Regions from separate parts of the Homo sapiens genome. Here all the other regions are linked to region 5. The links come from fine-mapping of genetic effects on gene expression. A gene starts in region 5. Each other region holds a variant in brackets. All regions are shown on one strand. Distances are between the middles of the regions.

Evidence for each region.
Region 1: its variant is fine-mapped to the expression of ACTR3-AS1 in Th1 cells (Schmiedel 2018, PIP 0.95).
Region 2: its variant is fine-mapped to the expression of ACTR3-AS1 in follicular helper T cells (Schmiedel 2018, PIP 0.95).
Region 3: its variant is fine-mapped to the expression of ACTR3-AS1 in lymphoblastoid cells (GEUVADIS, PIP 0.95).
Region 4: its variant is fine-mapped to the expression of ACTR3-AS1 in blood mononuclear cells (TOPMed, PIP 0.92).
Region 6: its variant is fine-mapped to the expression of ACTR3-AS1 in T cells (TOPMed, PIP above 0.99). The same link has a PIP of 0.9 or more in lung.

What each region holds. Positions count from the first base shown.
Region 1 is chr2:113,909,210-113,914,283 of GRCh38, reverse strand. It overlaps ACTR3 (actin related protein 3), which reads right to left. Exons shown (of 12, transcript NM_005721.5): 2 at 1,057-1,112. Among named protein-coding and RNA genes, the nearest start is that of ACTR3-AS1, 21 kb to the right of the region's middle. The variant G/AG (reference allele first, on the strand shown) is at 2,865.
Region 2 is chr2:113,867,150-113,872,223 of GRCh38, reverse strand. All of the region lies in intron 1 of ACTR3-AS1 (ACTR3 antisense RNA 1), which reads left to right. Among named protein-coding and RNA genes, the nearest start is that of ACTR3, 20 kb to the left of the region's middle. The variant CAA/A (reference allele first, on the strand shown) is at 2,081.
Region 3 is chr2:113,920,239-113,925,312 of GRCh38, reverse strand. The region is part of intron 3 of ACTR3 (actin related protein 3); the gene reads right to left. Among named protein-coding and RNA genes, the nearest start is that of ACTR3-AS1, 32 kb to the right of the region's middle. The variant C/A (reference allele first, on the strand shown) is at 1,963.
Region 4 is chr2:113,844,697-113,849,770 of GRCh38, reverse strand. All of the region lies in intron 2 of ACTR3-AS1 (ACTR3 antisense RNA 1), which reads left to right. LOC124906165 (small nucleolar RNA U13) reads left to right here and starts at 1,535; the gene lies at 1,535-1,638. The variant C/A (reference allele first, on the strand shown) is at 2,376.
Region 5 is chr2:113,888,691-113,893,764 of GRCh38, reverse strand. ACTR3-AS1 (ACTR3 antisense RNA 1) reads left to right here and starts at 2,773. Exons shown (of 5, transcript NR_110174.1): 1 at 2,773-2,872. ACTR3 (actin related protein 3) reads right to left here and starts at 3,676. Exons shown (of 12, transcript NM_005721.5): 1 at 3,442-3,676. The coding sequence starts at 3,485. LOC124906071 (a long non-coding RNA gene) reads left to right here and starts at 3,998. Exons shown (of 3, transcript XR_007087205.1): 1 at 3,998-5,074. RefSeq lists enhancers at 2,736-2,915, 2,966-3,015, 3,098-3,753, 3,786-3,875, 3,996-4,305 and silencers at 3,146-3,405, 3,646-3,705.
Region 6 is chr2:113,836,707-113,841,780 of GRCh38, reverse strand. The region is part of intron 3 of ACTR3-AS1 (ACTR3 antisense RNA 1); the gene reads left to right. Among named protein-coding and RNA genes, the nearest start is that of ACTR3, 51 kb to the left of the region's middle. The variant AG/G (reference allele first, on the strand shown) is at 2,170.

The sequences.
Region 1 (5,074 bases), 21 kb before region 5:
ACACAAATGACAAAACAGTTGACCTCTTGTGTCCAATGAGTGCTCAAGTGATACTAAAGATCCAGTTTTTGGCAAAGCCTAACATCTTATTCTCAACTTCATTGATTCTGAAACATACACTGCTTTCATTACTCTCTACATATTCATTTTTCCATTTTCTTATTTTCATAATGAATAACAATGAAATACAAAAAATTCAGTCACATAAATAAGATTGTGAAAAATCAGTGACACTCTCAAAATTAAAATGTCTAGGAGAACCACTAAGCAACGGCTCAAAAGGTTTGTCACTTGGTATGCAAAAGTTTTAATTTGGCTGTAAGACAAATAGATCAGAAGTGTTACTATATTATGTACAAAAAACGTGAACTGTTTGCAAGTCAAAAGTGTAAAAGTACGTTAATCAAGGAACAGACCTATGCTAACAAACGAGCACTAACAAACCAATGTCAGAATATTTTTTAAAAACTACTGAAAGTTAATGGTCAGCTTAAGCAAGATTAACAAAAATAGGATAAAACAAAAATACTCTAAAGACATACAACAGTATGGTTATGGGATATTAGAAAACAGCTGAGGTCAACATCTCTAAAGGTGAGATAGTGAGATATTGTCCTTCCATCCATATTTTGAAACATGGGCACTTAGTGAGGACGTCAACAGATACGGGCCCTACAAACAGTAGTCATATCCACAAACCAAAGGACAGTCTTCATAGGTATATGATGGGGAATGGACTACTTGATAATTAGTTATACCCCCATACTGTTAACTGCAATATCACCCTAAAAATTGGGGTACTGTTTCATTATCAGCTAATTTCTTTTTTTCTTTAAAAAGAGGTATTTAGTAGACATGGCAAATGGGGAGCTAAACATAAAGCTGAAATGAATAGTCAGACATACAAAAATGAGGCCACACTTAGAACCTGGCAAATCATGTTTTTAAAAGGACTAAATCTTTTAGGATTTCAGAACTGATTACTTCTTTTACTTAAATTATTAGGGAAGGGGATCTTTTAAATCAGCTCATTTGTGGCTTAAAAGAAATACTTACAGGAAGGGATGATAAACTGTGGTTCTGTATTTCCAGCATATCCTAGTTTTGTATACCTGCAAAACAAAATAATTTATAAAGATTTCACTAATATTTTAGCAATTATACATTTCTTTCTTAGAATTTCATTTGTTATGAAGTGAGATTCCATCGTAGGTAAATAATATACCAAATTCCATAGTTTCACTTCATTTAACCCCTACTTTCACAATTCTATCAAAATTATAAATGCACAGAGCTTCTGAAAAGAAATTCCACTTCAAGAAATTGATCCTTCAGGAATATATGTGAAATAATACACAATCAAGGTCATTAGCTACAATCTTGCTTCTAACAGCAAAAGACTGGAAATAACCTAAATATCAATCAAACTGGAAACTATTGAAATATGCTAAGTTTATACTATGGAATATTATGCAGCTACAAAAAATAGAATGAGGAAGCTCTTAGTATAGTGATAGGAAACAATTCCCAAAATATATTACTTATTGAACAAAGATACAGAACAATGTATCAAGTATGGTATATCTGTATAAAACTAATGGGGAGGAGTAAAAACATATGAAATATTTTGTATAGGCACAACGTATCTCTGGAAGACTACACAAGAATAATTTTGGTTGTCTCCAAAAAAGGGAACTGGGGCATGATGAACAGAAATGAGAAGGAGATTTGTTTTCATTGTACATTGTTTCATACCATTCAAATTAATTACTATTCAAAAATAAATATAAGATTTAATGTTTTGTCACAGTAGACTTGGCCTACATTCTTCTAACAAAATAACAACATAAATAAGGATTAGAAATTATAAAAGCTGAGCTCTGACAAGCAGTATGTGGGGGCTACTTAGGAGATAGTGGGGCATTTTTTAGCTATGTGGGAAAAGCTATTAACTATAAGCAGGCTTTAAAGAGAATGTAACATTTTATATTATTCCATATTCAAACTCACTGATAAATAGCAGACAGGTAATTGCTGTGACATTCTTGGACTCTAATATCTGAAGAATCTTTTTTCTAAGATAAAATGAAAAAAAAAAATCTGCTGGGGGCCTGACGTGGTGGCTCACACCTGTAACACTAGCACTTTGGGAAGCTGAGGTGGGTGGATCACCTGAGGTCAGGAGTTCAAGACCAGCCTGACCAACACGGTGAAACACCCTCGCTACTAAAACTATAGAAATTAGGCTGGGAGCAGTGGCTCATGCCTATAATCCCAGCACTTTGGGAGGCTGAGGCAGGTGGATTACGGGACCAGGACAGGAGTTCGAGACCAGCCTAACCAACATGGTGAAACCCCCAACTCTACTAAAAATACAAAATTAGCCAGGCATGGTGGTGGGCACCTGTAATACCAGCTACTTGGGAGGCTGAGGCAAGAGAATCGCTTGAACTTAGGAGGCGGAGGTTGCAGTGAGCCGAGATCACACCACTGCACTCCAGCCTGGGAGACAGAGTGAGACTCTGTCTCAAAAAATAAACAAATAAATAAACAATATCTTTGGGGAATGTTTTAGCCTCCAAATTAAGTTCAAGAACTGAGTGTGCCAAGGCCGAGGAGAGAGGATCACTTGAGGTGAGGAATTCGAGACCAGCCTGACCAACATGGTGAAACCCCATCTCTATTAAAATACAAAAATTAGCAGGGTGTGGTGGTGGGCGCCTGTAATCCCAGCTACTCAGGAGAGTGAGGCAGGAGAATTGCCTGAACCTGTGAGACAGAGGTTGCAGTGAGGCAATATCATGCCACTGTATTCCAGCCTGGGTGATAAAGCAAGACTTCGTCTCAAAAAAAAAAAAAAAAAA[G/AG]TGTGCCAAATAAGAGTAAATCATTAAAAATAAGGGGAAACCATAAACTGTTGAAAAAAGTGATATTGGTCTACTGACTAACCTCTTCAACAGTTCCCCACTGTTCACGTTTTAAAAAAAAAAAACGAAAAACAAAAAATTTCCTTGTAATGTATACAAAAAAGTCCCTTTATTATTTGGCCTCTGACCTCTCCCAGCTGCCCTGACACCACATTAAACTCCCTAACCATAAAAACAGCTGACAATTTCTCAACACTCCAACTCATTTCATGCCACCAAGCCACTATTAACACTGCTCCTACTACATTAGATGCTCTCCTTCCCATCCAGTATAGTTTAATACCTTACCAGTGGACAAATGGAAATGACTAGTCTACTATACCAAAATAAAAACTTGTTTAATACAAAGCAGTCTGAAACTGTTGAACCAAAACACTCTACCTAAAAGCCTACTACTATCTAACCAATAGTGAATTATTAATACCTAACTATTCCTTGGTCTGATCCCACATATTAATCTCTCTACTTTTATTCTTATTTGTCACCACCACAATTCAAGCTGCTATACCCAACAATACCCTAAAACAGGACAAAACAGTATTTCCAATTCTAGAACTCCTACAAAGGACAAGAGAATAATATACCTAAAAACAATGCTCTAATTGTTTTTTCCTCTGCTTACACACCACCACCACAGCAATCAACACAGAAGACTTCTGGGACCAAATGTGTGGAGGGTTTCTCCCAACAACAAAAAAGCAATCAATTCTGCAGTGGACACTAGCTGGGTGTTCTGTAATTCAATTCCAATACTATCTACCTGGAGATAACATCAGAATCCACAGGTTGAAGGCTCAGTCCCCAAGACTGCCCCCCTTCTTCAGACACCAGTCACAAGCCCCAGACTCTGGAACTTCTGACTCACCTGCTTGAAGATGAGTTTCCCATACTCCCTCCTTGAGTTCAATTAATTTGCTAAAGTGGCTCACAAAACTCAGAGAAACACATTAGCTGGTTTATTATAAATAATACTGCAAAGCATACAGATAAAGACACACACAGGGTGAGGTGTGTAGGAAGAGACGTAGACGTTCCACACCCTCTCGAGCGTACCACCCTCCCAGAACCTCCACGTGTTCAGCTATCTGAAAGCTCTCCAAACTCTGTCCTTTGGGTTTTTATAGAGGCTTCAGTGCATAGACAGGATTGATTAAACCATTGGCCACTGGTGATCAACTTAACCTTCAGCCCCAGTGGTTGGAGGGTGGGGCTGGAAGTCCCAACTCACTAATCATGCCTTGGTCTTTCAAGTGACCAGCCCCATCTTGAAGTTACCTAGGGGCTGCCAGCCAACAGTCATCCCATTAGCACTCAAACAGACGTCACTTTGGAGTTTCTAAGAATTATAGGAGTTGTATGTCCGAATATGGAGTTGAAGACCAAATACATATTTCCCAATTTCAAACGGCCTAACTCAAAAATCTTCAAATGATGCTCTACTGGCTACAAGATTAAGTACAAGCTTGTTTCCATTTCTGTAAAATTGTTCATTGTAAAATTGTTCCTAAAGGCCCATCCACATGAACAATTATATCATTCTCTGATTCCTTCAGCTGAATATTAAAGTTCTCCATAATCATTTCCAATTTTTATAAGCATCTGCTATCACTTGCTTACATAAACCCAGCTCTAAGCATACTACACCTGCTACTCTTTTTTCCCTTATATCTTGTCTATTCCCTATTCCCCCCTCACATATTATCTACGCTCACACTGCACCCTCCCAAAAAAAAAAAAACAACAACAACAACAAAAAAACTTTTATCACAACTTAAAACTTCTCCAGGAAGTCTTTCCTGATCATTTTAACTATCAGGCATCCTTTCTTTTGACTAATCTTCATTTCAACCATAAGCCACACATATTTTTATGTGTGTAAATATCGTCTCCTAAATATTACAGTAATATTTGAAGTACAGACCACATTACAGTAGAAATTCCCTTAAGAAACATTCATTTAACCAGCTTACCAGACTGATCAAGACCCCATTCTTGGCCAAAATCAAATTTCCTAGGCTGAGTATATTCATCAATGAATTACTTTCAAAATAAACACCAAAAGGATCAAATGAACCTAATACAAAACAGTCAATATGTAATCAAAACAAAAATGCTCTTCTCAAAACACAAGAATAAATGCATACAGTATC
Region 2 (5,074 bases), 22 kb after region 5:
CTGGGGATTACGACTCCAACATATCTTTTTGCGGGGAGGAGAACACAGCTCAGGCCATAACGAGCCATTTGTAGAGATTAGCTCACTATCTGTTTCTGACTCTTCTTTCCATACCTGCCTACCCATTTCTCTCCACACTGTCTCTTGACAGAACCTGTGGTCTGGAAAACATCTGGTCAACTTAGTCACACTGAGGAGTAAGTGGCCAAAGCTGCCTTTGTCTATCTGTAGTATACAGTGGTTCAAAAGGATAAAAATAATGATAGGAAACTGTTAAATTTTATATGTTATCCCTCCTCGAAATACTGCATTTTAACAAATCACAAAGAATTATACCCATTTCTCACTATAAGTCACAAAACTTGGAGTTATGAGTAAAAACTTGCTAAGCAACCCTTGATTTTCATTGTAATTAACAGAAAAACTGCATTGTCTATTAACAGAAAGATAAAATTGAGTCTCAGATTGGTGATACAATGATACGCACTCATAAGTCTCTACTTAAGATGACCATAAACCAGGTGCAGTGGTTCATGCCTGTAATTTCAGCACTTTGGGAGGCCAAAGTAGGAGGATTGCTTGAGCCCAGAAGTTTGAGACCAGCCTGGAAAACATAGTAAGACCCTGTCTCTATAAAACATAAAAAAATGAGCTGGGTGTGGTGATGCCTGTGTGGGGGCCCTAGTTACTGGGGAGGCTACAGTAGGAGAGCCTGGGAGATCCAGGCTGCAGTAAACCGTGATCAAGCCGCTGTAATCCAGCCTAGGCGACAGAGTGAGACTCTATCTAAAAAAAAAAAAAATCTATTACTATAAATTTCTTCTTTACCAGCAGTAAAAGATATAAGCATTCCTGAAGGAGCTGCAAACATAGCTACTGACATATCATCAGTATTGTTTCATAAGTGGTTCAGAGGCTATGAAATTAGCAATGCATTTAAACCACTTGAGCCAACCATGACTTCCTCAGCGGTCCAGCCCCTCCAAAAATGCACGCAGGAGCCTTTTCTGTACCAAATAAAAGATTAATTTTTTAATCTCAAGAATGTGGGATGTGATAGGATAGCTATCATATTTTTAAAAAACTTAAATGGACTCTAAGAACTAAAAACCATGATGGAAAACTTCACTTCAGGTATTATGATCTAAAACATAGTCAATTCTCATTATTCATGGTAGTTATAGTTTATAAAGTTGCTGTAAACATTGAATTAGTGAATAATGAACCATTGCTCTTAAGGGAAATACAGGGTTAGGTTTCTGCAAGCTTCTGGTTATAACATTTTTGCCAACCAAACATATAACCTTGTTTTATGTGTGTTTCTGTTTAAAGACACTTTAGCATATATTGTTGATTTGTTAACATTGAACTCACAGCTAATAGCGCCATAACTCATGCTTGAGTGAAACTGATCCAACACACGTATTTTCTCCATAAGGCACATCATAGCCTTCTTGTGCTTAAGAACCCTACGCAGCACTTAGCACTACACTTGTTGGCCATTTTAAACAGCAAAATCACCACCAAAAAGAACGAAAGTGTGAAAAACATGGTACTAAATAAACAGAAAAAGGACACACATATAGTAAGAAAGCTGAAGTGGGAAGGCAGAGTGTTGCTTTGTTGAAATTCAGCTGGGAATGTGTGCAATCAACAACTCAATTTTTTTTTCTTTTCTGCACATGTCTGCCAATGATCACAAAAGTGCTGTGGGTATTGATTCGGGAGTTATAAATAACTTTTAATGAGTAGGAGAATTTGCAGATATGAAAGCCATGAGAAATGAGGTTTGACTGTACGTCTCCCTGGCTTCTGTTGCCCATAAGCCAAAAATATATATTTTTTAAAAAAACAGGGCTTTTTTTGCCTAGCAAAGTGGGTTACATTTACACTCCATATTTGTAATTTGTCATGTGAGACCTCAAAGGATGTTGGATAACTGTAATTAATGTCCAAGCCCTGCTGCTGATTATCTGAGTGAACTTGGTCAAAGGGACTGGTTTTCCATGGGTCTCCTCTTATTATTCATAAACTGATAGTCTTGGACTACTATACACACACACACACACACACACACACA[CAA/A]ATATACACAAATTATCATAAAACTTTTTAAATCCAACACTCATATCCAACACTCACATTTTAAAATACTCAAAAATCAGGAAAATATATAAGGAATAGTACTCTAGACAGTGATATGATAGGAAATTTTTTACTGTATTTCCTTTTATACCTTTTGGTTTTTGAACTATGAAAATGTATTACCTTTTTAGAAATTATTATTATTATTATTATTTATCTTGAGACAGAGTCTCCCTCTGTCACCCAGGATGGACAACAGTGGCACAATCTTGGCTCACTGCAACCTCTGCCTCCCGGGTTTAAGCGATTCTCCTGCCTCAGCCTCCCGGGTAGTTGGAATTACAGGTGCCTGCCACCACACCTGGGTAATTTTTGTATTTTTAGTAGGGATGGGGTTTTGCCATGTTGACCAGGCTGGTTTCAAACTCCTGGCCTCAGGTGATCCACCTGCCGCAGCTTCCCAGAGTGCTAGGATTACAGGCATGAGCCACCATGCTCAGCCCCTTTTTAGACATTAATAAGGGGAAGAAGAAAGAGGAGGATGAGGAGGAGTCAAGAGGAGGAGGAAAAAGAAGGAGAGGGTGAAGAAAGAAAACCCCTAATAGGCATTTTGCCTTCTGTATGGTAGGGAGCAGGGATATTAAGCTCAGATTATTCTGTGACCATTAGACCACAAGGGTTTACATACTTTCATATCTTTCTATAAATCATGTACTTACAAATATCTTTCACATATCTTCTTTATAAATCATGTATTTGTTAAGTACTTACTCCAGGGACAGTTGTTAGTATGTTATTCTATTTTTTTCCTTATGCCTGTGAAGTAAGTATTCGGTTGAATCATATGAAAATGCAAATATTCAACCATTTTTGACCTGCAAAAATGTCCATTTCTTATACTCAACCCAACGCTAATGTCCCCATTTTAATAATGAAGAACCCAGGATTCACAAAAGCTGTGCCGCTGCTCAGTGGTGCCACAGTTGGCAAAAGAGACTCTTGACCAGAATCCAGATCTCCTGTTTCTACTAAATAGTGGGATGACTTTCACAGTAAATGCATAACTTTCTTTACCTATGTGTGAACTTAAATGCCACCAGGTGGCATTTCTTTAATCTTGACATCAATTAAGTCAAGATTTTCTCCCATCACCACTTGCCCTCCATTCCCAATAATTGTGTCTGGGAGGTGGCACACGCCTGGCTGCCCTGTTCTCGCCCACACCTTCCTTCTGCTGCTGCTGCTGTGCCTGGCAGGCCTCTAGAACTCTGGTATCTTTTTGTCTACCTCAGCTTTGGAGGCACACATCCTGACTGCTCCTTTTCTTTTCTTTTCTTCTCTTTTTTTTGTTTTTTTTTTGAGATGGAGTTTCACTATTGTTGCCCAGGCTGGAGTGCATGTGCCACCGTGCCCGGCCAATTTTTTGTATTTTTAGTAGAGACAGGGTTTCTGCATGTTGGTCAGGCTTGTCTTGAACTCCTGACCTCAGGTGATCCGCCCACCTCGGTCTCCCAAAGTGCTGGGATTACAGGCGTGAGCCACGGCACCCGGCCTCCTGACTGCTCTTAAGCAGAAGGTCTACCTCACAGACCACTTGACCACTTCCTCTGAAATCATGAAAACTGTCTTGGATTCAGACCGTTATCTAGTCTCAGGAAGGAGAAAAGTCCAGCTCCGACATACTGTACACACTCCAAACCTCGAGTCTCTTCAAGGCAGTGACTTTGAAATTTCAAAACCTTCATTTTTGGCTTTGGAAAGACTCTTAAACACCTCTTTGCTTATGGTTTCAAAGTCCATTTTAAAATGCAAAAAAAAAAAAAAAATCAGAAAGCAATTGTGTTTACTTTTGTTCCTTTCTTGAGGAAATAATGGCAAAATAACTGTTGCCTGAATAACGAGACTGAGCGGACGGGTAGGGATAATGGAAGAGAACAGATGGGAGAAGAGGAAAAGGGAAGTTAATGTTCAATATTCTGTCCTGCCACATTCATTGGTTGTTCTTTTCTCCAACACAGCTTTTCAGGTAGTTCTCAAATTTGAGAATGCCCATGAAATTGTTCAGGGGAGTTGCTTAAAATGCACAGACCCTGCTTTATTTGGAGAATACTCTGGACCAATGAAAACAGGCTAATCTATAAGGCTATGTTAACGTTCAATTGTGAACAAGTCCAAATTGAAGTAAGAGCATACCATCCTACAAAATAGAAGGAAATATATTAGGTGAATGAAACTGAAATTTATTTTTCAACCAAGCGTTGAATAGCAATCTGGTGCTGTTTGAATAGCAACGCCCATTGTGACTTCGGATCCATGGGCTTTTTGATTTGCCTGTGAAGCAGTTCTTTTAAACACAGGTGGGATGCTGGGCTATTATTTAACCAAGACTCTTGGACAATAGAACCACATCAAAACAGCATGACAGTTCAGAGGACAGTCAAGCAAAATGTGCTTCTGTGCTATATCTAAATTGCAAAGGAGAGGAAGGACTCGGGAAAACAGTGTAATTAGAGGCAATTTAAGCTCCCTAGTAGGAGGAAAAGCAAAATAGTCTATATTTAAAATTGTAGTGGGAACTTGAAGTTCTAAGGTCATAAAGGTAAGGCTCAGGGAACAAGGAGAAGAGAGGGCTAAAAGGAAGAAGGCACAGTGTGTACTCAGACACCTTAAAGAACCAGAGAAACAGTTCTGGGAGAAAAGAATAGTAACATAACATTTCTCTTAAGCAGTATAATGAGAGATATCAGGCTGGAGAGAAAAAGAATAGGAAATGTGGGGAGAGGTTTGACAAGGTAGGAAGAACTGAGATGAAAGCAGATTGAATATTTGTGAGAAAGAAAATAAAATTTGATTTTTTAGGTAGAAATATTTTTCTAGTGCAAAGTCTCCAGGCATGCAAGTCATGTTTGATTTAGATTATACAGCTTTATTGGGCTCACTATATATTTTTCTTTCTTTCTTTTTTTTTTTTTTTTTTTTGAGATGGAGTCCT
Region 3 (5,074 bases), 32 kb before region 5:
GAGACAAGAGAATCACTTGAACCCAGGAGGCGGAGGTTGCAGTGAGCCAAGATCACTCCATTGCACTCCAGCCTGGGCGATAGAGTAAGACTCTGTCTCCAAAAAAAAAAAAAAAAAAGGTGGCACGATGGCTCACGCCTGTAATCCCAGCACTTTGGGAGGTTGAGGTGGGTGGATCATTTGAGGTCAGGAGTTCAAGACCAGCCTGGCCAATATGGTGAAGCCCCATCTCCACTGAAAATACAAAAATCAGTCAGGCATGGTGGCAGGCACCTATAATCCCAGCTACTGGGGAGGCTGAGGCAGGAGAATCTCTTGAACCCAGGAGTCAGAGGTTGCAGTAGGCCAAGATCACATCACTCCACTCCAGCCTGGGCAACAGAGTAACACTCTGTCAAATAAATAAATAAATAAATAAATAAATAGTTCCTTGAATAAGATGACCACCTTGTTTTGTGAGAGAAAAGGTTTCGCTGAGGAGGTCATATCTAAGCCGGGTCTTAACTCAGTTCTGCTTTCTGGCTTTTTTTTTGGCAGGGGAATGAGAGGTATGGAGGAACTTGTGGAGAACAGAAAAAGATGTATAGAAAGACAAACACTGCATGGTATACAAAAACAAAACTGAAGTTATCAATGAGAAATTTATGTGCCAAAAGATTTGAAGGTGCGTAGAGAGATATACCAGTTCTAGATCAAAGGGACTAGATTCTCAAAAATTTTCCTTTTATTTAGGTTTTATTCTATAAGAAATAAAACAGCAGAGAAATTTTTAAGCAGGGGAATAAGAACAGCTTTAATTTTTAGGAAGACTATTATAGCAGCATTGGGAAAGCTCAAATGAAGCTTAACAGAACCAAGTGAGAACAAGAGTACCAATAGTGGTATGGACGACAAGGGGCCACATTGAAGATTTCTCAGTCAATAAGAATAAGAAAGGGCTGGGCATGGTGGCTCATACCTATAATCCCAGCACTTTGGGAGGCCAAGGTGAGAGGATGGCTTGAGCCCAGGAGTTTGAGACCAGCCTAGGCAACGTAGTGAGACCCTGTCTCTACAAAAAAAAAAAAAATTTTTAATTAGCCAGGTGTGGTGGCACACACCTGTAGTCCCCGCTACTCAGGAGGCTGAGGTGGAAGAATCACTTGAGCCCAGAGGGTCAAAGTGATTGTGGAGGGTCTTGCAGTGAGCCAAGATCTCACCACTGCATTCCAACATGGGCAACAGGGCAAGACACCTGTCTCAAAAAAAAAAAAAAAAAGAGAAAAAAGTCAGAAGATGCCAACAGGTTTCCAGCTTTGAAGTTAGGATGGACCAGATCCATTAATCAAAACATAAAAATTGTGTTTTGTCTGATCTTGGAATAAACAAGAGTGGAGTATATATAATACGTTTTGTTTTAGATATACTAAAACTCAAGAGCCAGGAAATAGGTAGGTGAAGATGTAGTCAAGGAACTGAAAGTAGAGATCTGGTCTGTGGTTGCAGACAAAGGAATGGAGGAGATCACCTAGAGAAAGTCTTTAATGAAAGAATAAAACATTGAGTCACCCCATTTTATGAGAAGAGAAAAAAAAAAAAAAGGAGAACTGAAAGCAGTGCCTAGAGAAACCAACGTTTGAGTAGTGGGTAAAGGAGAAATCAGTGACAATAGAAACAACAAATAAAAACAAACAAAACAGGCCGGGCACAGTGGCTCATGCCTGTAATCCCAGCACTTTGGGAGGCCGAGGCAGGCAGATCACGAGGTCAGGAGATTGAGACCATCCTGGCTAACACGGTGAAACCCCATCTCTACTAAAAATATAAAAAATTAGCCGGGCACGGTGGTGGGCGCCTGTAGTCCCAACTACTTGGGAGGCTGAGGCAGGAGAATGGCATGAACCCGAAGTCGAGGCTGCAGTGAGCTGAGATCGCGCCACTGCACTCTAGCCTGGGCGACAGAGCCAGGCTCCGTCTCAAAAA[C/A]AAACAAACAAACAAACAAACAAACAAACAAATATTCCATGTTAGGAAGATAACCATTAGAGTAATCCTGCAAAAGAAAGACAAATCAAGAAGGATGAAAACTGTTACATATAATTGGATTTAACAAAGAGCATATCAAATATCTTGAGACTCACTAAGAAGTGTCGTTTTAAAAGGAAAGAGAAAAATAGCTAAATTGCTGAGGACAGAAGGTAGGAATAAAGATTGAGAGAAGTTTTGTTCTGGTTTGTTAGTAGCACTTAGAAGACTTAAAAATGCGTTTAAAATGAGTGGACAGAATCAGTGGAAAGGAACTCTGGCCTCTCGACTGACTGACTTCATCACTTTCAGTGGTATCTCTTTTCCATTTTGGCCACAGTATAGATCTTATATCATCATCACTATCACCTCTCAATCGCTGAAATGCAGGTATACCCTTCTCTGATCACAACCTCTTATTATTCTAGCATACTCAACCACCTCAAGAGATCTCTTCTGAACACCAATTAAGACTTTTGGTCCACTGGTTGCTTTAATTATTCCCTAGCCATCAATATACACAGTCTAGATTTTGACCCATCACCTTTATTTCACATGTTCTTTTTTCATCCTGTCTACCAAAATCCAACCCAGCATATATCCCTAACATAAACTTGCCTATATCCAGAATGCTGATTATACCGCAGAAGCATTTGCACTAGGGTGCTAAAGACTAAGAATTCATAGTCATTATTCTCAAATGGACCTAACCTTGCCTGGCAAGCCTTTACTCTTCTACTCTGTTCCTCTTTACTCTTCACAATGACGAGTGTCAATGCCGCCCCTACCGCTAAGATTTCACCTTCTCCCCACATCCATGACCAGCAGATGATGCCACCACATATTTCGCAGAAGCAGCAGAAGCCAACAGTCAGGAATTCAAATCTGTAAAATGGATTCCATACTTAGCCTTTTTTCTCATTTACTTCCATTATAATGTAAGATATTCCGCATGTCAATTCAGTCATCTGTGTTCTGGATCTCATCCCTCCAGCTTTTTCAGAGACCTTGATTATACCTTATCTTTCCTGTTACTTTAATCTCTAATAGTTCTTTCATATTAGCATTCAGACATGTCTTCCATCTTAACGTTGAAATGTGTCTCTTCATCTCTCTCTCCCTCCCAATCACAATTGAAACTCAATGAACAGTACTCTTACTGTTACTTTTTTCCTGGCCTATCACTCAAAAGCCTACTTTCATCTAGCCCAACTACTCTTCTAAAACTATTCTCATTCAGGTTACAAATCACCACCTTGTAGCGAAAGACAGCAAATTATCTATGGGCTCTAGCTCATCTCAGCACCATTCTACAGTGTTTACCTCTACATATCTACCCATGCATTCTCAGTCTCTTTCGCAGACTTTTCCTCCTCTACTCAAACCTAACTGGCACACTGCTCTGTCTTAGTTCTCTTCCCCTGTGATATGTTCCCCTAGGTAATGTCAACCCGTCTAAGGTAACTGACACTTTCTGAATCTCTGTCTCCAGCTCTGCCTTGTTTCTTACCTCCAAAATCCACATATTTGACTCTAACAAAATCTCAGACGTCTCACAAGTACCTCAAACACAATGTGTTCAAAATTAAACTTATTTTCTCCTCTCTACACTACCCAGTCAAAAGTGTTTCTCCTTATGAAACAAGACCTCTAGCTCTCACCTTATACAAAAATCAACTCAAAATGAATTAAAGATTTAAATCTAAGACCCAAAACTATAAAAGTACTAGAAGAAAACTTAGGGGAAACCTCTCACAACATTGGTACGGGAAAAGATTTTACAAATAAGACCTCAGAAGCACAGGCAACAAAAGCAAAAATAGACAAATGGGATTATATTAAATTAAAATGCTTCTGTGAGGAAAACCATCAACAGAGGGAAAATACAAGTTATGGAATGGGTCAAAATGCCCGCAAACTGTACATCTGACAGAGGATTAACATCCAGAATATATAAGGAATTCAATTCAACAGCAAGAAAAAAAAAAAAAAACACTGATTTTTTTAAAAGGGCAAATAATCTAAATAGACATTTCTCAAAAGAAGTCACATCAACGGCCAACAAATACATGAAAAAAACGTCCAACATGACTAATCATCAGGAAAATGCAAATCAAAACCAGAAAGAAATACCGTCTCACCATAGTTAGAATGGCTATTACCCAAAAGACAAAAAAAATCACAAATGCTGGCAAGGATGTGCAGAAAAGGGAACTCATATATACTGTGGAGGGAATGTTAATAGGTAAAGCCACTATAAAGCATAGTACAGAGGCTCCTCAAAAAACCACAAATAGAACTACCATATGATCCAGCCATCCTACTATTGGGTATATACCCAAAGGAAAATAAATTACTATATCAAAGATACCTGCACCCTCATGTTTATTGCAGTACTCTTCACAATAGCCAAAATATGAAATTAACCTAAGTGTCCATACGGATATGTGTAGTATATATGCACAATACTATTCAACCATAAAAAAAGAGTGAAATCCTGTCATTCCTGGCAACACAGATGAGCCCAAAGGACATTAAGTGAAATAAGCCAGGGACTAAAAGATAAAAAATTGCATGTTCTCATTCATGTGCAAAAGCTAAAAAAATTGACTTCATGTAAGTAGAGAGTAGAAAAGTGGTTACTAGAGGCTGGAAAGGGTAGGGGAAAGAAGGGAATAGGGAGAGCTTGAATAAAGGATACAAAATTACAGCTGGATAGCAAGAATAAGTTCTAGTGTTCTATAGCACTATATGATGACTACAGTTAATTTATTATATATTTTCAGATAGTTAGAACAGAGAATTCTGAATATTCTCAACACAAAAAAATAAGTGTTTGAGGTGAATATGCTACTTACATTGACTTGATCACCACACACTGTACATATCAAAATATCACTACATACTCCATAAATATGTACAATTATTATATGTCAAGTAAAATTTTTTTAAAAGCCTGGCACAGTGGCTCATGCCTGTAATCCCACACTTTGAGAGAGGCCAACATGGGAGGGTCACTTGAGCCCAGGAGTTTGAGACGAGCATGGGCAACAGAAGGAGACCCTGTCTCTAT
Region 4 (5,074 bases), 44 kb after region 5:
TATATTGGCCAGGCTGGTCTCAAACTCCTGACCTCGTGATCCACCCACCTCAGCCTCCCAAAGTGCTGGGATTACAGGCGTGAGCCACCATGCCCGGCCCTTATTTCACTTTTCTAAGCATCATTTTCTCATCTCTAAAATTAAGATAAAAAGAAAAATACTACCCATATATGACTATTATGAGGATTGAATGAGAAAATGATATTAAAGACAGACCACAAAACAAAAATGAGACATTCTCTTCCTGCTTTTACTCTATGTACATACATCTGTGTGTGTATTCCTTTACCATCTCTCTATATTTCACTATGCAAACCATGGTGATATATGTGATAAAGCAGTACCTGCAAGAAGTTCCTGTGAAGCTGTAGTTACATATGTAACAAAGGAGGACTACACATAATTAGAATATCAAGGTACAAAACTGTGGACTGCAGATCAGTGGTTGTCAGCCTGCTTTCAGCCAGAACGCACCTGAGTAATGGTGATTCACAAGGACACACTCCCCTTTTAAGCCTGGTTTCTGGTGTGTCAACACATGCCCTATTATTCTTACTCACCAGGATTGAAAGTGAGTAAGTGTAGTGTTAGGGTAGCAGTAGCTCTGAAATCAGTCATTTTTTTTTGAAAAAAAAATTACATTATTAGCAAATCTCATCACTTTCCCTGCTAGCAGGCACAATGATTTGGCTGATGTTGAGAAACTGTCAGAAAAGGGCCAGAAACTAAAATGTCTGCAAGGCCAGGCTGATAAATGAGTGAAGTGAACTGAATAGGAGAACCCACAGGAAGCCATTAGGAAGACCTTGGTGCACAAGAGTACACGTACACACACAAACACACACACACCCACACACCTCTAAACGTTCACATGCTCACCAGCTCCAGCACATCACAGGTCCAGTAATGCCAGCTCCTCTAGTGTCTCAAAAAGCCAGAAGTGGCTCACGCCTGTAATCCCAGCACTCTGGGAGGCAGAGGCAGGCGGATCACAAGGTCAGGAGATCGAGAACATCCTGGCTAACACGGTCAAACCCCATCTTTCCTAAAAATACAAAAAGTTAGCCAGGCGTGGTGGTGGGCACCTGTAGTCCCAGCTACTCGGGAGGCTGAGGCAGGAGAATGGCGTGAACCCGGGAGACAGAGCTTGCAGTGAGCCGAGATCATGCCACTGCACTCCAGCCTGGGGGACAGAGAGAGACTCCATCTCAAAAACAAACAAACAAAAAAACAAAAAAAAAAAACAGCCAGAAATCTGGAATTTTATGTGAAATCTCTGGATTTTATTCAAATCATTTTAAAACAGTACAAGACAAGTCAAACACGTTCACCATTTACAAGACCTATGGGCTATTAGTCTGTAACTAAACTTCTTCAGACCAAATGTCTTTGATTCCATACTCTTGTCAGCAAAATCACTGAGCATGCAATCTAGAATATAATTTATAAATTATAAGCAAGTACTAAAAATCTGTAAATTAAATACAAATAATGCCTTTTTTCTCTTAGGAAGAAAGCAAACATAAATATGTTGATGCTTTTGTAGTTCATAAGCATGATGATTAGGTGTTCACATTCAAGTGTGGGATGTGCCATCCTCAAACCTTGTCATGATGTCAACATTTTGCCCATCTGACATGAAAATAAATAGCAGATAAATAGATGTTCTCACATTTCCCTTCGACACTCTCATGAATCTCTGTGGGTGTGCAGCGCCGTGGAGGCCACCACTTGGACCCGGAAGCCTGTAGGGATTGGAAGACAGGGGGACCTAAAGAAGTAAAAGTCAGTCCATTTCTCCTGCTCTTCCACTCCTGACACTCAAATTCTCAATTCCTCTCTCAAAGCAGCCACTATAAAGATTTGTGTTTTTTTTTTCCTTTCTGCATGTATTTTTTGTTTTCATTAATTTATTCTAAAGAAACGGTTTTCAGCACCTGGGGGCAAATATGGCTGCCCACATGGGACTTTACATTCTGTTAGGGGAGACAACTAATAAAAAACTAAATATGAAATAATGAAAAAAATAATAAACATGAAATACGGTGGTGCACATCTGTAATCCCAACATGTTGGGAGATCGTGGTGGGTGAATCACTTGAGCCCAGGAGTTTGAGACCAGCTTGGGCAACAAAACAAAACCTTATCCTTACTTAAAAAAAAAAAAATGAGGCCAGCAACAGCAACAATAGCAATGATTCCCTTTCTTGTGTCTGTGTTCCTTTGCTCTGTAACTCTGAGTATACTTTCCACTTTGGCTCTGACCTTGACCATGTGACTTGCTTTGACCAACGAAATATGACACAGTAGAGGCTTGAAGAGTCCTTGTGGTTTGGGCTCTTGGACCCCCGCTGTCATGTGATGAACTAGGCTCA[C/A]CTTCTTGATGAGGAGGGAAACATAGTCCAGTCATCTCATCACTGCAGCCAACACCAAGACACGTGTCAGGCATTTGAGTGAGGTCATCTGGAACCAGTCAGCCCCAGCTAAACTGCCAACTGACCATGGATGCATGAGTGAGCCTAGCTAAGATCAGCCAGAAGAACCGCCTAGCAAAATTGTGAACTAAATAGATGGTTGTTTTAAGCCACTGGGATTTGAGTTGGTTTGTTATGCAGCACAAGGTAATTTATACAAGCTGCAGCATGAATCAGATACCATGCTGGGATCTCTCTTTACCATCATCCTGGGGCTGTCCTCTGCTTTTTTTCCTGTATTGGATCTCATGTTTCTAGTAATCCACATTTTCCTCTTGCTTGATTTCCTTCAGTGACTTCCCAAGGAAGAGTACATGAGCAGTAAATTAATTGTATGAAATCTTGCATGTCTGAAAATGTCTTTTTTTTTTTAATTTTTTTTCGATTCTTGTGTTTAAGTGCTAGTTTGGTTGGAAGTAGAATTTTAGATCGTTAATTATTTTCTCTTAACATTTTGAAAACCTTTCTCCATTGCTTTGTAGCCAGTCCTCCTGTTCACAAGTTAAAAGTCTATGCCAAAAGATGATGAGACCACCACTTAATATCTGAAATAAAAGGACAAAGCTGAATTTACTCCTTGCTCTAGTGAGAGCTATGATGGTCAGAAACTGTCTTTCCATGTGGAGCAGACTACTACGGTTTTGAGGAAGCATGAGTTCAGGGAGTTCAGAGACTTCAGTAGGATGTCATCATTTGCAGAATCACAGTTCCTTAGGGGAGGGGAAACTTTATTGATCGTTCACCACTCAAAGGTGTTTTTACAGGAGTGAATCCATCTATGACTGGCTGTTTTTCAGAAACAAAGACCTGATTCTGATGTGTTGGTTTGTAAAAGTGTGTACATTGAGGGGAATTGTGTTGATTGATTACATGGGTTTAAAACCAGTTTTTGATAGCTACTTCTTATTATGACTACAGAACAACTGCCTTTCCCTAAGTTTTGGGGAACATTTTTATTCTCATAAATCTCTGATCCTGTGTATATGACCTGTATATTTTTCCCCTTTCTACAATCTTGCAGGATCTTCTCTTTGTCTTCAATGTTTGAAATTTCACAATGTGTGCATTAGCCTAAGACTGTATTCACTTAATACATTTTTCTGTCTGGAAATTCAGATTATTAACTTCTCTTCATTTTTTTCTTTTGGATGCTCTATTAGTCCATTTTCCTGCTGCTGATAAAGACATACTCGAGACTGGGCAATTTACAAAAGAAAGAGGTTTAATTGGACATACAGTCCACATGGCTAAGGAGGCCTCACAATCATGGCAGAAAGTAAGGAGGAGCAAGTCACATCTTACATGGATGGCAGCAGGCAAAAAAAAGAGCTTGTGCAGATAAACTCTCGTTTTTTAAAACCATGAGATCTCATGAGACCCATCCGCTGTCACAAGAACAGCACAAGAAAGACCCACCCCCATGATTCAGCCATCTCCCACCGGGTCCCTCCCACAACACATGGGAATTATGGGAGCTACAAGATGAGATTTGGGTATGGACACAGATGCTAACACCCTTGACCAATTTCCTAATTGTCTGACATTTGTATCTCCTGTTTTCCATTCCCTTTTCTTTTTGCTGGAAAAATTCTCAACTTTACATTCTGACCTTTCTATTGAAAATATTAATTTCTAGTTGGGTGGATTGGCTCACATCTATTATCCCAGCACTTTGGGAGGCGGTGGCTGTAGGATCACTTGAGCCCAGGAGTTTGACACCAACTAAGGCAACATAGTAAGACTCATTTCTACAAAACGTAAAAGAAATTAGGCAGGCATAGTGGCATGCACTTGTAGTCCCAGCTACTCAGGGAGCTTAGGTGGGAGGATTGCTTAAACCCAGAAGGTCCAGGCTGCAGTGGGCTATGATCATGCCATTGCACTCCAGCCTGGGTGACTAAGAAGGATCCTGTCTCAAAAAAAGAAACAAAGAAAGAAAATAAAATATTCCTTTCAGCTATGTATTTAATTTTCAAGATCTTCTGTATGTGTTTTGTTCCATTTATTTATTTGCTTGTTTATTTTTGCGTAGAATTCTTTTCTTGTCTTGTGGTTATAGTAGCTTCTCTTTGTGAGAGGTTTGACTTTTATTTTATCTTCATTTCCTTGACATTACTTTTTTTCTTTATTCATTTTCTATCTTCCAAGTTAAAGGCTTTCCTCACATATCTTATCATCTTTGTATCTGATAATATTTAAGAGTGAGATACTGAAACACTGGCTGGAAGCCCTGAGAATATGAGAGCTGGGCTGGTCTGATGTGGGTTTCACTGTAAGAGCATCACGGTGGGTTGGGTCTACTGAGGGAACTTCCAATGTCAATATCTTTCCAAGGTCAGGTCTTTCATCATGGACCAAGCATATTTCCCAGAGAAGACTCCATGTCCTGCCTGGAGGGTGAAGGTCTAACTTTCAGTGTTCTTGGCCCAGAGAAGGAAAAGATGGATATGTATTGGGTATCCCAGAAGCTAATATGCATGAATTCACTTAATCCACTATTTTTAGTACAATTCTCTCACACTCAACTGCACTGGTGTTCTCCCAGTGTAGAACCATCTATTTTACCCCATTCTGGAAATAAACTTCACCCTTTTGCCAGT
Region 5 (5,074 bases):
ACCAATATTTTATTTACCAGGGGAAAAAAAAAGACATAAAAGGGAAAAGGAAATTCACAATGCAGCTCTGTAACCAAGCTACGATATAACAAGGAGTTAATAAGGAGCGCCCTCATTTGGCTTGAATGATGGAGAAACTTGAGTAAAAACATGCATTTAAAAAAAACCTTTAAGGCTGGGCGCGGTGGCTCACACCTGTAATCCCAGCACTTTGGGAGGTTGAGGCGGGTGGATCACGAGGTCAGGAGATGGAGACCATCCTGGTCAACATGGTGAAACCCCATCTCTACTAAAAAGAGAAAAATTAACTGGGTGTGGTGGCATGTGCCTGTAGTCCCAGCTACTCGGGAGGCTGAGGCAGGAGAATAGCTTGAACCTGGGAGGTGGAGGTTGCAGTGAGCCGAGATCGTGCCACTGCACTCCAGCCCAGCGACAGGGCAAGACTCCATCTCAAAACAAACAAACAAACAAACAAAAAAACAAAAAGCAAAAAACACATTTAAAAAACGATCCCTTCCACCGCCCAGAAAAAAAAAAACCTTAGGATGATCATACAAGTGTTACAATGTTTTTTTAAAAAATGTTTGTGAATGCCTTTTAAAGAAAATGCTTTTCTCACCACTAATAGCAGGTTTGAGTTCTGTTATTTAGTTTTCAAGCCACCAATGGGAATCTATGTGCCCCAACTGTATTTTACAATGCTTTCCAATACAGACCAAAAAAGTGTGTAGATAAGGGTATCAATGTGAATGAAGCATTTCTTTTCAAATTCTTTTCAAAATAAGTATTCTCTTTTATGACCTGAATCTAGGTGATTCATATGTTGAGTTTTGCTGGACGATCCCTAAAAGTTTTGGGCTTAAGTTTCAAGTTTCCTAACTCTTAACAGCTTTCCTATCTAAGACGATCAAGTTTTACAGATGGCCACTTTTTTTCAGCCACCTTTCCCCTAATTTATATAATGAATGAAATGAGCAACCTGATTCAGGTTATAACTTTTTACTTAAACTAAGTGAGTAATTGTAATTTAGAGACCTCAGAGCTGAATGCATTCTCTAAAGCATAAAAAAAATTAGACAAATTACAGGTGCACAATTTGCATTCGGGGACCACAGAATTTTGAAATGTAAAAGCTCCCTGTTAAGGCCATACTTAGAGATGTTTATCTCAGGGTCCTCAACCTCAAGGACTTATCCTCCATGTGCAAATAAAGCTGAAGGTGTAACTTCCCAGGAGGCACCACTGGAAACTTGTAAGACCAAAAAGGCTTTTGAGAACCAAAATAACTGAAACTCTAAAGGGGGAATTTCAGATTGTGACAAATGGTAAAAGAGAGTGAGGTGGCAAGGGGACTCCTAATCAGTTCCATTCAAATCATCAATGTGCAGTTAATAACCTCTCCTTATTGGAGAAACCAATGTAATAACTTAAAAATACACTATTGTGATAATCGTAATTTTAAAACAGAAATAGCCTAGGTTAAATTGAACCCCTCTTCCCGATCCTACTGGTCATTCAGCATGTTTTAAATTCAAGGTTGCCCTTTAGGAAAGGAGGTCACTTAAGGACAGTTTATCTCAATGAAACATCTTGTATACTAATTCGAAACTATTTCAAAAGGGGGAAAATGGAGATTAGAAAAGTAACATACTACTTGAGATGTTACCATATTATTTCTCAGGGCCACAATTATTTACACTATTTTTTTGAAAACGCAGTAATTTCTAAAGCATTAATTATGTAGCAATATTCGTCACTTTAACAAAACACATTTGAAAAGTCCTATCCTACTGACTCAGGCCAAATCTAATTTTAAAACTGAACCTAGACATAAAAATACTCACCAATTAGACTAAGAAGGGAGAAATAAAAAAAATTATTGGTTCAGAGAAATGAGACTGAATTAAGGAAAAACTTTTAAATAAAGTGTTCATCAAAAAAATACATAGAAGTTCCAAGGCTAGTGTTTTCCTAGGAGAATATTAAGAAGTTGGTGGTTTCTCTCTACCTAACTGGGATTTTAGAAACTGCCACACTAGCTAGTTATGAGAATGAAGATTAAAGAAATTTCACATAAAGAGTGAAGGACACACAATCTTTTAAGTAACAATAATGAAATCAATAATTATAATTAATAATAAAAAAAAAAGCCTGACAGTCCACCTCTTACTGACTTCCCCCTCAAAAAAAAAAAACTGGGAGTGTTCTGGGAATTGGAGAGATGTCATCAGCACAGAAAAAAAAACCACTTTCCTATATGTCATCCTGAAGCAGTGATTCTACATAAAAATAAGGGTAGTCTATTCTCTATGCAGTTATGAGTGTGGTACAACTCTCTAAAACGTCTATTAATACAAAATGAACGACCACACTTTAAAGCCACTCTACATTTTCGCAAACTACCCTACATATCTACGAGTAACTATTTGCAACTTAAACACCCTCCTATATACCTCTATACCTTCCTGCTTCCTTCAAGATACCATCACAGAATGAACGAATACAACTTAAATTAGTTTATTTTCCAGGGTGCTTCCTTTCCCCCACTCCATGAAACATAAGTACATTTTTTTAAGTCATATAAATGGACACCAAGCACCGGTAATTCAGTCTCTTTAAAACCTGCTTAAAAGTTCTAGTAAGATGTGCTCAGGTTGGAAACTAAAAACTACCTTATAAGGGTATAAAAGACTGAAAGCAGGAAGCGGCTTTGACAAAACTAAGGAAGTTGCAGCGCGCTTGCTCACTGGGGGACTTTTTTGAGGCTACAGAAGTAACACATGACATCTTTCTCCCTCGAATTAAAATGTGACTTGGTTCACCGGTTAAAACGCAGAGGGAGATGGAAATGACCAGGAGTCGAAAGGAGAAGGTGGGTGGTCAAATGAAAGCCCCACTGTAGGTTCCCATTTTCAGAGTCCGATTCTTCCCTTTCCCCACCCACACCCTGGGCAGAATGTTGTCACAGCGATCTTGTCAAACCTACCAGGAGCGCTTCTCTTTTCTAGCTCCCCTGCCAGGCCAGTCCCCGAGCTCGGCCCCTGGGTCCCCAAACCGACTGGCAAAAACGGGCGCGGAGGGAAAGGAAAGCCGGATGGGTCGGGCCCGGGGACCACCCCCAAGACGACCGTCCCCAGCGCCCTTTGGGCGGCGCTGCCCACCGTAGTGGGGGAAGGGCCGGGAGGGGTCGCGCGGAGAAAGCCGCTGGGAGGGTTGGGGGTTGAATCTCGGGCCCGCGCCCCCGCCCCAGTCCCAGGAGGGAGAAACGAGGGGACCCGCGAGGCCCTGGCTGCGGGCCCCACCCCTCGCTGGCCGGCGGGTCTAGGACTGACAGCCGGCGGCGGCACCTCGCCGCACCATTCATTTCCCGGCCTCCTCCCTCCCCCGCCATCTTCCTTCCTCCGCCTCAGTTTCCCCACCCCCGCCCGTAAGCCCCCTTACCCCGTGCCACAGTCCACCACACAGGCCGGCAGCCGTCCCGCCATCTTCCTCCTCGCCTGCTGCTGCTGCTGCCGCCGTCTGCTCCGTGCTGCTAGGGGCCAGAGATTGGCGGCGGGAGACAAGGGCTATCTGACCATCCACAGCTGGGCCGCCTTCACCGTCCGGGGGGTAGCCGGGAAGCCGAAGCAGTAGCAAGAAAGCAGCAGGCTCGGTCGGCGGCTATCACTTCCGCAACCCAGGCAGGCAGGCAGTCCCCGCCCTGCCCCGCCGCGGCCTCCTCCCCCTCTCTCTTCCCTCCTCCTCACTCCTGCCCCCACCCTACAACTTCTTCCCCTCACGCCGCCTTTCCCCGGGAAGCCAAGATGGCCGCCGGTGCCGACGCCCCGGCCAGGCCAGGCCCAGGCCCCCAGCGCTCCCCCTTCCGCTCCGAGCGGGAGGGGCTAGCGAGCATGCGCAATAAGGTACGTTCGCCTGCCTGGGCTCCGATCCTGAAGTTGGTGAAATCCACTGCGGGTTTTCCAGGAGTGTAGAGGCGGAGAAGTCTATCCGAGCTTCCAGTTCTGCTTCTGAAGCTGGAAGGGGCTTTTCGGTTGTAACCCTTGGGTTAGTTTCAGTTACTTCTTTGCTAGGTTGAGGAAAGGGTGGAAGCGCCTCCTGCAGCCACGAATATCCTCCAGTGCCTGAGAGAAAACGGCCTAATCGAAAACGTCCGCGGCATACATCCATTCTTAAAACTTGAGTGGCTGCTTTTCTGGGTGGAAAAGAGCGGTATCAGACAGGGTGAGCAGTCGGGGAACGGATGAACAAAGACTTGCACCGTGGCCCTGATGCCTTTGTTCCGAGTTCTATTCAGTTGTACTTGTGCGTTGTTACAGGACTTTAGAATGCAGCCCTGCCCCCCAACCCCCACCTCCCAGGGCCGACCTGTGCTCCTAGGAAGGCAAACCTCCCAGGAATATATTCTGCATAACTATACAAATAGGCCTTTATTCAAGGCTTTTGGATTATGACAAAGATTACCCTCAGGAGTAGTAAGATTCTACTAGCAGGATAATAGAAAGGATTAAGGCTCCCCTCCAAAGAAAATTTTTTTAAGTTAGAAACGGAGGCGAGCCGCAGTGGGTCATGCCTGTAATTTCAATGCTTTGGAAGGCCGAGGTGGGAGGATAGGATAGCTTGAGGCTAGGAGTTCGAGACCAGCCTGGGCAACATGGGGAGACCCCCCCCCATCCCTCCAAAAAAGAAAAGAAAACTGGAAAGCCTTAAAGAAACCTTTCAAACTTTAGTGTGTATCAGAATTACCTGAAAGGTTTGTTAAAACAGATTGCTGGGCCATACCCCCAGAATTCTCTGACTGGGCTATCGGAAATAATGCCTGAGAATGTGCATATCTAATAAGTTCCTAGTTCCACTTTAGGACCCTAGAAGGTTAGTATCTTTCCTCTCTACCAGGCTTATCTTAGGATGAACCGTTCGGGGTTTGCTGATGTGAAGCTAAAACAAAAATATTCTTTAAAAGGAGGGATGTCTTATTCAGTCCATAAGATCATCTAATGTATTAAGCTGGCTTGGGGGATGAATCGGGTGTTTCATTCATTCATTTGACAGGTAAGCATTGCTTACCTACTCTATT
Region 6 (5,074 bases), 52 kb after region 5:
GAGCCGAGATCGCGCCACTGCATTCCAGCCTGGGTGACAAAGCAAGACTCCATCTGAAAAAAAAAAAGTTTACAAAAATTGACTATGTCTTATGTCTCAAAGTGAGTCAACAAACAACACAGTCATTATTATATAGACCATATTCCCTGATCACAATATAATAAAGTTACAAATCAGGAGCAAAAGGATAGTTAACCCCTCTGTGTGTTAACTCTTCTTTACTCTTCCTCTATAAAAAGGAACTAGCATTTCCCAGCTCCCTTGGTCTCTGGTAACCTGGTAGGCTCTGCAATGGGAAGCACTGACTGCAACCTGGGGAGTCACAGGGGGTAAAGGAAAGATGTTCCCCACTTCCTGTGGGGGGCGCGAGGAGAGGATTCCTTACAGAGAAATTTATATCCCAAAAAGCAAGTTCTAGTTTTGAGCCTCCTCCTCATTTTGCTGACTTCTTTGCACTTTGTTCACCAATCTAACTTTTTTCCTTTCTTTCGCCATTTCTGTATAATTCCTTGATTTTTTATTTATTTATATATATATATATTTTTTGAGGTGGAGTTTCGCTCTTGTCACCCAGGCTGGAGTGCAATGGCACGATCCCGGCTTACTGCAACCTCTGCCTCCCAGGTTCAAGCGATTCTCCTGTCTCAGCCTCCTGAGGAGCTGGGATTACAGGCACCCGCCACTACACCCGGCTAATTTTTGGTATTTTTAGTAGAGACAGGGTTTCACCATGTTAGCCAGGCTGGTCTCGAACTCCTGACCTCAGGTGATCTGCCCACCACGGCCTCCCAAAGTGCTGAGATTACAGGCATAAGCCACTGCTCTGGGCCTCTGATTTTTATACCTCTGTAATGCCCTCTTGAATCCCTTCTCCTCTTTCTATTTTCGTTGTGACTAGTCCTCTGGCCGCTCACCTGGAAAGGCAGAGGAGAGGGTTGTAACTCTGGGAGTTGAATTATAACTAATCTTCTAATGATGGTGTTTAACAAAAGCCATGTTAAAGGCAAAGTGCTTCTGTTTCGAAAAATACTCTCAAACCCAGTTTTCTCTTGGCCCTCACACCACCTCAGCAGCAATCAACAACAAAGAAGAAGACTTCTTTGCCTAAATATGCGGGGAATTTCCCGACTCACATAGCAGCAGACACCAGCTGGATGTCCTCCAATTCAGTTCCGACACTGTCTACCTGGAGATAGCATCAGATTCTATCGGCTTGGGGCTTAGTCCCCAAAACTGCCCATTCCACAGACACCCATTGCAGATGTGGGCCTCTGGGACTTCCGACCAACCAGCTTCAAGCTGGGGTTCCTACACCTTCTCTTTGCGTTCAGTTAATTTGCTAGAGCAGCTCACAGAACTCAGGAAAAAAGTTTACTGGTTTGTTATAAAGGGCATTACAAAGGATACAGACGGAGAGATGCACAGGGTGAGGTATGGGGGAAGAGGCGCGGAACTCCCATCCCCTCCCTTGGCGGTCACCATCCAGGAACCTCCGTGTGTTCAGCTATCTGGAAGCTGCCTGAATCCAGTCCTCTTGGGTTTTTGTGGAAGATTCATGATATCAGCATTTCTTCCCCCGGCTTATAGGGCAGGAGCATCTCTGGAGAGGATCTTAAGACCCGTAGTCAGAAAGGTGGGGTAAGACTAGAGTCCTGCCTTCCAGAAGGTGAAAGAAGGGCAGGAAAAGGTCAGAGAGATTCTGTTTTCTGAATCTGCTCCTGAGGCCTAACACACCCAACCTTATAACGAAAGGTTGTAACGAGGGCTCTGGGAGATATGGTCCAGGAACTGTGGACGGAAATGTGTGTGTGTGTGTGTGTGTGTGTGTGTGTGTGTGTGTGTGTGTGTGTATAAAATAACACCACAGCTTCCTAGCCAGAAAGAAGAGGAGGCCGACCTTGACTGTAATGTCTTAATGCTGTTAACACAACTGAGAAAAACAAGTGTCAATCAGATGGGGCATTGGTAACTGGAAAACAACAGCAAAGGCTAAGGCCAGCGGGTCTGGTCAAGTTAGTTCAGGATGCCTCTCTGTTGTGATTATTTTGTTGGATTTAACTTCTCTAGAACCAAACGTAACCGGTCTCTACATTTCTGGCAATCTCACACCGTTCCTTCAGTGATCCATGCTCGAAATGCATAAATGATCGCTGACTCTTCTTCCCCTGT[AG/G]TCCTCATTATCTACTTGATTGAGCCTTTTTGACGCTTACTCATTTTTTTTCTCTTCCCTCCTCCCAGCCAACCATAATTTCAGGTGCTTATTAAAACACACTCAGATTAATCCCCCCAATTAGACCTCTTTGCCTCTTCCTGACCCTCCCAAGGGTCCTGCCCTACTATTAGGTAATGACATAAGACCCAGGAATAAGTATAAGGATTCCCACTGGCCTCCATCCTGGTATTTAAAACAGGCACAGTGCTCACACCTGTAATTCCAGCACTTTGGGAGGCCAAGGCTGGGGGACTGCTTGAGTCCAGGAGTTCAAGGCCAGCCTGGGCAACACAGGGAGAACTCCTCCCCCCACATCTCTACAAAAAAATAAATTGAAAACAAAAAACAAAACTAGCCATTTGTAGTTCCCAACTACTTAGCAGGCTGAGGTGGGAGGATTGTTTGAGCCTGGGAGGTCAAGGCTGCAGTGAGCCATGATTGCACCACTGCACCCAGCCGGGTGAAAGAGTGAGACCCTGTCTTAAAAATAAATAAATTAATGAATTAAACAAAACAGGCCTCACTTTCCTCAGGGAACCCTGGATCCTCTCCCTACCCCGGACACAGTAGGTTCAGTTGGGTGAGTTCTCTGCTTTCCTCTAAACATGTTATGCTCACACTTGGCCCCCAGGGTTTGCACTCAGGGTGCCCAACTCACAGCCATACTGCAAAGTCCCATTTCCTCCTTGAGTCCTTTGCTGATATGCCCTGGTTTACACTGATTCCTACCCTGGCTTTCTTTAGACCCAAAGACATTTAGGCAAGGGCGGATGGGCCATGTTGCTAAGGAGGCTTACACTTGAGGGCCCCTTAACTTGGACAGTCCCCTCCAAGACTGTGTGGCTAATTTTTATTTATAATTTTGTATTGTCTTAAGAAGATCATTTAAATTGTAAAAGCCTCAGGCCCCACGCAATCTGGGTCTGTCCCTGAATTTAGACATTAATTTATATTCTTTTCTTGAAGGATTTTCTAACTGGTTAATGTACAACAAACCTGTTTTCTCAACTTAGTATGAGCTTCTTTGCTAAATAATGCTGTGCAGTATACAGTGTGGTGGTTGAAAGGGTCATCAGTAGAGTCCCACAGACCTGTGTCCAAAGGTCACTTCTGCCGTTTCCTAGAGATGTGGCTTTTGGGCAAGTTTAAATTTTCATCTTCATTGATCTTCAGCTTCCTCAGCTGTTAAATGGGAATGATTATGGTGAAGCTTGCATTATGACTTTCAGAGGCCCAAGGAACTTTTGCCTTCATAGGCCCCTTTCTCCATGAAAATGATTACCAACTATATTTTGTGACTGTGTTGGTAAAAAGGCTAATATAATTCAACAGGGATTCTGTTCTTTTTTTTTCCTTTCTGATGCTAAAATAAACAAAAACATTTTCATGAGCCCCTAATAGTGTCATGGACCCTTGACATAGTGCCTAGTGAGCCTAATGGATAAGTTGACCCTGATTATAGAGCACACAGAGAAGCCTGGTGAATAATAAATGAGACAGTGTACATACAACATTCGACAAAGTGCTGGTGTGTATTAGGTGTTCAGCGGACGTCAGATATTACTTTTGTTATTATTATATGCCTCTTTCATATAGAAATGCTTACTAAATGGGATTGAATAGAGCTTATTTTACACTAAACCATTTGTAGCAATGGGAGTTTGGAAACAGATATCACTTTCTTATATATTATTATAGAATGTCAATTAAAGCTTTTCTGCTTCCCGACTTGGTACCCATCCTGTATTTACAAGCAGTTATTGCCTACGGACCAGGTGCTTAGATGTCTTGAATTTCAACAGAGCTCCTTAAACACTAGGTTCCCAAGCTCCACTCAAGAGATTCTGACTCAGTGGCTCTGGAGGGAGATCTGAAAATAAGTACTTAAAAAAATCTTACTCCCTTGGTGATTTTGAAGAGCAGCTAAATTTGTTGGAAACCACTATCATAGGCAAGCCGGTAGAGGTCAGTGACAGCTGAAAGAGTGGTATACGGGGGCATTAGCTTACCTCTTCCTAAACTCTGTAACACTCACCCTCAATCACTGCAAATAAAATGAAGTGTCTGCTATGCAAATGCAGCTTCCAGACAAGTCCCCTACGCACTCCCTTCCCAATCAGATTGTACCACTAGCCCCCCTTAGTAAAGTAATTTTGGAGCAGTCTGCAGAAGAGATATAATTCATATTGTAGCTTTCAAGGAACTTCCAGGATAGAGATCAACACAAAACCAAGGTAGCATACTTTTAAGATTTTAAGGACCAAATGGGTACTGTGGACATTGAGCACTCAGAAGAGGAAGCAATCATGATAGACTGAGTTGCTGGGGGAGCCTCAAAGTGAAGAGTGACTTATGTTGAATCATGAAAGAAGGTGGACCTGAGACATTGAGACACGAAAAAAAGAATAATAGACTGGGGGTTAGGGGATGCAGGAATAAAACTGGCTTTGCCACACGCTAGCTGGGTGTCTTTGAAAATGAAGATATGAAAAAATGTAAACCTGTCAACACCTATTCCAAACAAGAGAAACCTGGTATAAAAATGCTAATATTTGCAAAAATACAATTTAAGACAAAAAAGCATTATTAAGAATAAAGAGGGGGCCGTGTGCGGTGGCTCACACCTGTAATCCCAGCACTTTGGGAGGCCGAGGCGGGCAGATCACAAGGTCAAGAGATCGAGATCATCCTGGCTAATATGGTGAAACCCTGTCTCTACTAAAAATACAAAAAATTAGCCGTGCCTGTAGTCCCAGCTACTTGGGAGGCTGAGGCAGGAGAATTGTTTGAACCCAGGAGGCGGAGGTTGCAATGAGCCAAGATTGCGCCACTGCGCTCCAGCCTGGGCAACAGAGCGAGACT